Regions from separate parts of the Homo sapiens genome. Here region 1 is linked to region 2. The links come from fine-mapping of genetic effects on gene expression. Tissue or cell type: ileum. Region 2 holds a variant in brackets; the other region holds the start of a gene. All regions are shown on one strand. Distances are from middle to middle.

The links. PIP is the estimated chance that this variant, and not a neighbour inherited with it, causes the effect.
Region 1: TMEM220 starts here. The variant in region 2 is fine-mapped to the expression of TMEM220 in ileum (GTEx, PIP 0.95).

What each region holds. Positions count from the first base shown.
Region 1 is chr17:10,727,890-10,732,889 of GRCh38, reverse strand. It overlaps TMEM220 (transmembrane protein 220), which reads left to right and starts at 2,867. Exons shown (of 6, transcript NM_001004313.3): 1 at 2,867-3,110; 2 at 3,830-3,859. The coding sequence starts at 3,039. TMEM220-AS1 (TMEM220 antisense RNA 1) reads right to left here and starts at 3,113. Exons shown (of 4, transcript NR_073458.1): 1 at 2,990-3,113. RefSeq lists enhancers at 2,242-2,828, 2,829-3,415 and silencers at 2,809-3,048, 3,059-3,228.
Region 2 is chr17:11,619,927-11,624,926 of GRCh38, reverse strand. All of the region lies in intron 6 of DNAH9 (dynein axonemal heavy chain 9), which reads right to left. Among named protein-coding and RNA genes, the nearest start is that of DNAH9, 24 kb to the right of the region's middle. The variant T/C (reference allele first, on the strand shown) is at 2,215.

The DNA.
Region 1 (5,000 bases), 890 kb after region 2:
ATTGAATCATGACTTTACAAGTCATCATTCTTTGTTGCAAATTACAAAAACCCAATTCACACGGGCTTATGTAAAGAAGAGACTCTGTTGGTTGTGAGATTCTTCCATTTTCAGGCATGGCTGGATCCAGGCTTTTAAACTTCACCTGCAGAAAGCCTTTCTCCCTGTGAGGCTTTCTCCTGACAGCTCCAGGCTCACATTCTACCAGCTCTACACATTCATCACAAAGAAAGCTTCTCTTTAATAGTGTGAGTAGGATTGCCAGATTTAGCAAATATTTGGAACACATCATTGATGATCCAAAATTCAGTTCAACTGAGGTTGTCCTTTACTGACAACCTAAGTCCCATATAGGTCCTAGGATTGAATCTGGGCAATTTGGATCCTATACCCATCCTAGACCCAATCACAGTGGTCAACAGAATGGGATATGTCAGCTGGCAGGCCAAAGTCACCTGCCTATCCCCAAAAGGAGGGGAGCACGGTCAACCCTGTAGTCCACATCCACCCATAGTGCATGTGGTAATCCACAGTACTAAAGACACTGATCCTCGAAGAAAGGGGACTGAACCCTGCAAAGGCAAAACCAACAGACGCTCACTAAGGTGACTTTGAAAGTCCCAGCCGGGTGCAGTGGCTCATGCCTGTAATCCCAGCACTGTGGGAGGCCGAGGCAGGCAGATCATGAGGTCAGGAATTCGAGACCAGCCTGGCCAATATGGTGAAACTCCATCTCTACTAAAAAAAATACAAAAATTAGCCCAGCATGGTGGTGGGCGCCTGTAGTCCCAGCTACTCTGGAGGCTGAGGCAGGAGAATCACTTGAACCCAGGAGGCAGAGGTTGCAGTGAGCTGAGATCGTGCCACTGCACTCCAGCCTGGGCAACAGAGCAAGACTTTGTCTCAAAAAAATAGAAATAAAAAAAGAAAGTCCCAGACAACAGTGAAAACTATAAAACTTCATGGTGGTTGTATGGCATTCAAGAGCTTAAAAGCACTTCCATGCCATTGTTTCCTTGTGGGTATTATAATCATTCCCTGTATTAATTTGCTAGGACTGTCCCAACAAAGTACCACAGTCTAGGTGGCTTAAACAACGGAAATTTATTTTCTCACAGTTCTGGAGGCTGGAAGTCCAAATTCAGGATGTTGGTAGGGTTGGTTTCTCATGAGGCCTCTCCCCTTGGCTTGCAGACGGCCGTCTTCTCCCTGTGTGCCCATGTGGTCTTCCCTCTGTAACTGTCCCCTCTTCGTATCAGGACACTAGTCATATTGGATTAGGGTCCACCCTATAACCTCATTTTAACTTAATCATCTCTGTCAAGTCCCTGTCTGCAAATGCAGTCCCATTTTGAGGCACTGGGGGTTAGGGCTTCAGCATATGAATTGGGGGTGCAGGGGGAATGCAAGTCAGCCCCTAGCACTCTCGCTCTCATTTTTTTCTTTTATGTAAGGAAAAGCACAGTGAGAATAGTCTTCGCTTGTTTCCAATCCCAGGGCTGATTTAGCTGTGGAACTCCACCCAGTGCTGGTCCCCGCTGTCCCCACCCCACCTCTGCAAACACGGGTGCCCACCCCCGCCAGCCGCCAGGCTCCCTGCCTAGTCCCGGCACGGGACCTTCACGGTCCCAGCACCAGGCACAGAGCAGACAACGTTCTTGAAATAAGTGTTTCGTGAAAAGAATGAAACTGAGAGGGAAAGAAAAAAAAAACTAGACAGTTTTAGGAGATTTAGCTCAAAGGAAAAGAGGACAGGCACAGAAGCTCCTGATTTGAAGCGATAAAGACTCTTTAGAACAGCAGAAATGAGGCCTATGGATGTGTAAATGAGCCCGGGGAGGAACTAAGCAGAAGGGCGAATTACAAAACAGAAAAAGACCAGACAGACTAGGGGAGAACAGTGAATATTTCAGTGTCTTCGGTTCATAAGAAATTCATGAGCAATTTTGGAAATTTTGTTGGTTTTGGTGGTGGGAGAGAATTGTAAATATGTATAATATGTAAATATCTTTTATAATAAAAGCCCATGAAGATAAATGAGCCTGTCTGCCGAAAAGCTGTGAGCCGTATAAGATGTTAATATAACTGTCGTCACTCTAGAAATTACCATAATGCTTACAGGGATTTGAAAGTTCCTGAGCTTTGGAAGGAAATGCATAAATACTAAACAGAACACACACACACACACACACACACACACACACACACACACACACATCTCTTTTTCTTTCTCTTTCTTATTTTTGTAAAAACAATTTTTATCCTTTTTTTTTTGAGGAGTCTCGCTTTGTTGCCCAGGCTGGAGTGCAGTGGCACAATCTGGGCTCACTGCAACCTCCGCCGCCCGGGTTCAAGCAATTCTCCTGCCTCAGCCTCCTGAGTAGCTGGGATTACAGGCTCCCGCCACCACGCCCGACTAATTTTTTCGTATTTTTAGTAGAGATACGGGGTTTCACCATGTTGGCCAGGCTGCTTTCGAACTCCTGACCTCAGGTGATCCGCCCACCTCGGCCTCCCACAGTGCTGGGATTACAGGCGTGAGCCACTGCGCCCAGCCCTTTCTTTCCTTCTTTCTTTTTCTTTCTTTCTCTTTCTTCCTCTCTCCCCTCCCGCCTGCCTTCCTTCCTTTTTTCCTTCTTTTTTTTCTTTCTTCTTTTTTTTTTTTTTTGTGAGGAAGGTAGCTTTAGTGAAAACAGGGTTTGGAGTTGAACCTATACGGGTTCAAATTCGACTTCCGTCCACCACCGAGACCTGCGCTCCCTGAGGGACTCGCTTTCCCATCCGCGAAACCAGGACGGCGCCGCCTACACCCCGCGGCGTTCGGGGCGGGCTGAATGGGTCGCTGAGTGGGGGCTACACCCACGCCCTTCGCTCCCCGCCCCCGGGCGGAGCGACGGCCACGGCAGTGTCCCCAAGGCACCGAAACCGAGGCGGGGGTCTCGGTCCCTCCGCGCAAGGAGGAAGGCGGACCGTACGTGGCAGGACTCACCGCCCCGCACGTGGCAGGACTCACCGCCCCGCGCCGTGTTCTCCGAGCCATGGCGCCAGCGCTGTGGCGGGCCTGCAACGGACTCATGGCCGCCTTCTTCGCGCTGGCGGCCTTGGTGCAGGTCAGGCGGCCGCGGTGGGAGGGGGACCCGCCCGGCTCCCAGCTCCGCCCCCTGGCCTAGCGGGCCGTGTAACTGACTAGCGGGCAGAGTCGCAGGGGCGCACAGTTAGTGGGGAGGACGGGACTTGGGCTTTCTGCTTGGGGAGCCCCCACTTTCTCCCCCGTCTAAGAGACGCGGATGTGTTCATGGAAGCGAGTCCCATACCAGGGCTCACACCCTGGAAGGGGCTGGTTCCGCGCGTGGAACTTCCCAGGGGACCTCAGAAGAAGCGGCCCTGGCTCCTGCGTTAACGTCCGGCCCGCGGACGACACTGAACATATCTCAGGGCCTAGGAGACGAAGCCGACCAAAACCCTTTATAGCATCATTAAACTTTTTAGTCGGCTTGGGGACCCCCTTCATAATCATTTCCCTCATTTCTTGAGACTGGTGGGGGTGGAGGGCCCTTAAAATACCCGTTCTGGGTTGGCGAGTCCTCTCCAGAGCTCCCGTGAAGGCTTTTCAAAAATGTGTGGCTGCCTGTTAAAAACATCTGTTGTGTCAGCCAGAAACCCCTTCACCCGTCCTCATCTGGACTATATCCTGTTCAGATTTTGTACCCTCGATGCCTATTGCAGTGTCTGGCACTTAACAAATTAATAAAAAATGTGCTTAAATGAATTTAAAAGGAATGGAACAGCACAGGATGTCTGCTAACACCTTGGTATTCTGGCGTTCCAGGTAAATGACCCAGATGCAGAGGTGTGGGTGGTGAGTATGAGCCGCTTCCAGGCTTTCCTCCGTTTGGAAGAATTGGGGAACGGCACAAAACACACGGTTTTATGTCTTTACCCCTCCTCCCTGCTTAATTTTCTGAGAAACTTAAAAATCAAACCCTTGGGAAGCGCTTTTTCCTAAAATATTAATAGGCAGGATCAGAGTTCTAATGTAATGTGTGTGTGAATTTCGAACTTTCTGGAAACAGGTCTTTCTGCAGTATTCCCTTTGGTTAGATGGCCCAACTGAGGACTTTCTTGAGGACCTAGAGTAGGCCTCTCAAGATCAGTTGAACAATTCCTTATGAGTTTCTAGCCAGACACTCAATGCAAACCTTTGACCGGAAAATAACAGGCTTAAGTTCTGAGGTTCTGCTAATTCAGTGACTTATATTTCTAGAAAGTATTAACTCCTGGCTGGGCAAGGTGGCTCACGCCTGCAATCTCAGCACTCTGGGAGGCCAAGGCGGGTGGATCACTTGAGGTCAGGAGTTCTAGATCAGCCTGAGCAACATGGTGAAACCCCGTCTCCACCAAAAAATACAAAAATTAGCCAGGCGTGGTGGCATGCGCCTGTAGTCCCCAGCTACTAGGGAAGCTGAAGCAGGAGACTCGCTGGAACCCAGGAGGCAGAAGTTGCAGTGTGCTGAGATCGTGCCACTGCACTCCAGTCTGGGCGACAGAGTGAGACTCCATCTCAAAAAAAAAAAAGCAAAGAAAAAAAAGAAAAAAAAAAAGCAAAGAAAAGTATTAAATCCTGTAAAACCTACAGTCTTCATATAAGCAAGGCTCTGATTTGAACCATTTGGAGGAGGGGGCCATTGTTCCATACATCTTCTAAATATCTTTTTTTTTTTTTCTTTTTGAGACGGAGTTTTGCTCTTGTTGCCCAGGCTGGAGTGCAATGGCGCAATCTAGGCTCACCGCAACCTCTACCTCCCAGGTTTGAGTGATTCTTCTGCCTCAGTGTCCCAAGTAACTGGGATTACAGGCATGCGCCACCACACCCAGCTAATTTTGTATTTTTAGTAGAGACAGGGTTTCTCCATGTTGGTCAAGCTGGTCTTGAACTCTCGACCTCAGGTGATCCACCTGCCTCAGCCTCCCAAAGTGCTGGGATTACAGACATGAGTCAC
Region 2 (5,000 bases):
AGATCCTTTCATGAAATGGGAATTATAATTGTACCTGAGTAACTTACTTTGATATAAAGACCTAGAAATTGTATGGCAAAAATTGAGTGTACAAAAGTAGAACAGAGTGTATAAGGGCAGAATAAAACCACAAAACCAGTTTGGGATCCTCAAACCAGGAAAGTGGGAGGAAAGAAAGAAGGAAGGAAGGGAGAAAAGGACGGAAGGAGGGAAACAGACCTTCACAACTCCCTATAGGATATCAAAGTTTGGTGCAAAGACAGTACTTGGAACCAGCTGTCCCCCTGGGTACAAATCTCAGCTACACCTCTCCAACCTGTGTAACTATGGGTGAGCTCATTTATGTATCAGATTTAGTTATGCTCATTTGTTAAAGAAAAGATACTGATACCCAGTTCTTTTCTTTTCTTTTTTTTTTGAGATGGAGTCTTGCTCTGTCACCCACGCTGGAGTGCTGTGGCACGATCTCGGCTCACTACATCCTCTGCCTCCCAGGTTCCAGCGATTCTCCTGCCTCAGCCTCCTGGGTGGCTGGGATTACACGGGTATGCCGCCATGCCCGGCTAATTTTTGTATTTTTAGTAGAGACAGGGTTTCACCATGTTGGCCAGGCTTGTCTCAAACTCCTGACCTCAGGTGATCCCACCACCTCGGCCTCCCAAAGTGTTGGGATTACAGGCGTAAGCCACTGCACCCGGCCCCAGTTCTTAAGATGATTGCAAGGATACAGGCTCTGGCATGGGATAGGTTCTTGAAACATGTTAATTTTTTAGTTTTCTATTCCTTGTTCTTCCCTCCACAAGGGTTAAATCTCTAAGAGATTACCTGTATCATGGTTATGATAAGAAGGCAGAGGAGAATGGTGGTATCCTGAAAATGCAATTACTCCACTTACTGCAGACACCGAAAAATACTGGGCAATGTATACCCCTTCTTCCAAGCCAGCCCCACCTCTGGCATTTAGCAGGCACCCAGAGAGGAAGAGTGGATGTGCACAACAAAATTCTCTTGTGCAAAAAGAGTGAAAGAATAAAAAAGCAACTCACATCAGAGAAATGAAATCTGGGAGAATTGTGGGGATTAAAAACCAGCCCTTCACACTCTAACCCGTGACGAGAGCATGCAGAGAGATAAACACATTGGTGTTTCATGTATTTATTAATTGCAGCTACCATCATCTCAGTGGCCATAGATTGTATTAGAATAGAAGATGAATAAGGCTAAGTTCATGATAATTCTTACTGGAGAGGAGCAGATTAATCCCATTTCAATCAGGCATCGATCACAGAGATACACAGAATATTAACTAAAGGCCTACATGAAATATGCCAGAGGACAGCTGATAGTCCTGTGTTCCACTGCACAGACTCAGGAGGCAAGAGCTGGGGGAGGAGGAAGATGGCAAAGGGCAAGGGCGATGCATCTAAGCAGACATTTGGGAGATTAAAAATAAAAGAGGGGAGGAAATATGAGGAAAAGGGGCAAGGAGTAGCCGTGGGAAGATGAAAACACATGGAAATTCAGGGCAAACAAAGAGGTCAGGGAAGTTAGAAAATAGAGAAGGAGAACAAAGTGAAAGGGGGACCAAGTGAAAAGGGAGGAAGAATTAGACAAAGGGAAAGAGAGGGAAACACAGTCAAGAAAAGAAATGCTGGCCGGGCACGGTGGCTCACACCTGTAATCCCAGCACTTTGGGAGGCCAAGCTGGGTGGATCTCCTGAGGTTGGGAGTTCAAGACCAGCCTGACCAACACAGAAAGACCCTGTCTCTACTAAAAATACAAAAATTAACCAGGCATGGTGGCACATGCCTGTAATCCCAGCTACTTGGGAGGCTGAGGCAGGAGAATCGCTTGAACCCAGGAGGCAGAGGTTGTCGTGAGCCGAGATTGTGCCACTGCACTCCAGCCTGGGCAACAAGAGCAAAACTCCATCTCGAGAAAAAAAAAAAAAAAAAAAGAAAAAGAAAAGAAAAGAAAAGGAGCAGCTGGGCACAGGAGCAAAGCAGCTAACCAGAGCCAAGGACAGAACGACACGTAAGAGAATGAGAGGCAGCAAGGCAGGGAGCTTGGTGACACTCATGTCATCCTCTAATTAAATGGGGGCAACTGCTTTTTATGCACCTGTGCCCTTGATTCAGAAAGCAGCAGCAGCCTGAGAAAGGACTTATTGTGAGAGTAATGACGCTAGGGAGGCTGGTGGCCATCACTGCTTA[T/C]ATTTACTGAACATATCCTGCAGATTAGGCGCCCTGATGTTAGAATAGCTGTCTATATGCAAAGTCAAATCATTAGCATGTGTGCACAGGGCCTGGGGTCATGCTCTGCTACCATTCCCAGGGCCATCTGCAGGGCTGGAGCATCTGCAAACATGGCCGCTGCCAGGCAGTGATGGAAATTCGTTCTTCGTGGTCAGCCCAGGCCAGGCATGGGCTGGGGCTGGAGTGTCCCTCACCTCTCACTAAACAGCAGCAAAGGAATTGGTGGTGGATATGAGAGGAATACAGAGTGCAGGAGGAGTGAAGGGCTGTACATCAACCATGATGGAAACGGCTGAGGGAAAAAGAGGCATTTAGGATAAAGCTAGATAATCAATTATTTATAGTCTCTGTGATCCTGATGAAGGGTTTAAGGTGCGCCTTTCATAAGATCTAGCTTCTGGCTTTCTCTCTCACGCATTTTCTCTCTTTATGCCCTTCCCATCTTTGTCTTCCCTGGCAAATTCCCACTCCAGTTTCACAACTGATTTTCTCTTGTGTTCCCACTTTTTGTCAAAGTCCTACTGGGCTAGAGACCCCTCTTTCTTGCTCCCAGTAACACATCAATCTCACTTTTTTTTTTTTTTTTGAGACGGAGTCTCGCTCTGTCCCCAGGCTGGAGTGCAGTGGCGCGATCTCAGCTCACTGCAAGCTCTGCCTCCCGGGTTCAAGTGATTCTCCTGCCTCAGCCTCCTGAGTAGCTGAGACTACAGGTGCACGTCACCACACCAGGCTAATTTTTTTTTTTGTATTTTTAGTAGAGACGGGGTTTCACCATGTTGGTCAGGTTCGTCTCAAACTCCTGACCTTGTGATCCACCTGCCTCGGCCTCCTAAAGTGCTGGGATTACAGGCGTGAGCCACCGCACCCAGCCCAATCTCACTTTTCTGATAGCAGTCAGTATATCCCACTTTCCTGATTCTGTGTCTTTCCTCCCGGATCTCGTCCTTTAGTCTGTCTTCCTTCTCCTGCAGTGGCTGCAGGTCCACCAGCCTCTTACAGGGAAATCGCATTTCAGTCGTCTTTGTATCTCAGTTCCTAGCTCCGTGCCTGGCACATGGTGATGCTGAACCAATACTTTCTGAACTGATAACAGATCCAATCTTACGTTCTCCTGTCCTTGTCCTCCCATGGTTTGCTCTGTTCATCATGGCTTCCTCCCAGCATAGCTCTCTTTCCTCCAAACCTGCTCATGACAGCTGGGAATATGATTCTTGTTCCTTCCCTGTCCCTCTGGCTCTTGTCTTTTTTTTTTTTTTTTTTTTTGAGATGGAGTCTCGCCCTGTCTCCCAGGCTGGAGTGCAATGGCGCGATCTTGGCTCACTGCAACCTCTACCTCCCGAGTTCAAACGATTCTCCTGCCTCAGCCTCCCGAGTAGCTGGGACTACAGGCGCCCGCCACCACACCCGGCTAATTTTTGTCTTTTTAGTAGAGGCGGGATTTCACCATGTTGGCCAGGCTGATCATGAACTCCTGAACTTGTGATTCGCCTGCCTCAGCCTCCCAAAGGGCTGGGATTACAGGGGAGAGCCACCGTGCCCGGCCTCTTGTCTTAATCTTAAACTCAACCCTGAATTTCTCAAATCCGTTTAAGTCTGTATTTCATTTTATTAGGCCCATTACCCTCCCTTCCAAGTCCAATCAGCAAACACATAGCTGTAAAATGTTGAGAGACCTGTTAAACATATTAAGTTTTGAGAATTGAAACAATCCAAAGAAATAGTATCATGTCTTCTCACCGTAGTACTTCACCTAAAATCCATATTTATTTTTAAATAATTGAGGGAAAGACATAACTTTGAGCAAAAGTCATGTTTCTTTTGCACAGGGACTCATTCGTTTTGGACTTTGGGGAGCTGCCTTGGAGATTGGGGAGTGGAGGAGGAGAAGTTCAAAGCAGCCAGCTTTGCGGGAATGGTTATAGCCCAGCCAAGGTTTGCTCAGTGTCAGTCTTTCTAGGCAGAGTTTATTTGAAACCCAGTTCAAAGGCTATGGGCAATCTGCAAACCAATTGAACTAGTTCATTGATTCCTTGGGCCTTCTTCCTAAATGGGTCTATGATCAGGATTTCCTAAACTTCTACTATAACCACTATTATGTGATGTGATGGTCAATCCAAATGACAACTATTTATTAAAACTTCTTTTTTTTTTTTTTTTTTGAGACAGAGTCTCGTTCTGTCACCCATGCTGGAGTGCAATGGTGTGATCGTGGCTCACTGAAACCTCTGCCTTCCGAGTTCAAGAAATTCTCTGCCTCGGCCTCCCGAGTAGCTGGGATTACAGGCGTGTGCCACCACACCTGGCTAATTTTTGTATTTTTAGTAGAGACAGGATTTCGCCATGTTGACCAGACTGGTCTCGAACTCCTGACCTCATGATCCACCTGCCTTGGCCTCCCCAAATGCTGGGATTACAGGCATGAGCCACCGCATGCCTGGCCCTTGTTTGTTTTTTTGAGACAAGGTCTGGCTCCTGTTGCCTAGGCTAGAGTGCAGTGGCACAATTTCGACTCACTGCAACCTCTGCCTCCTATGCTCAAGCCATCCTCCCACCTCAGCCTCCCGAGTAGCTGGGACTACAGGTGCACACCACACCTGGCTATTTTGTTGTTGTTGTATTTTTTGTAGAGAAGGCGTTTTGCCATGTTGGCCCGGCTGGTTTTAAACTCCTGGGCTCAAGCAATCCACCCACCTTTGCCTCCCAAAGTGCTAGTGGGATTACAGGCATGAGCCACTGTGACTGGC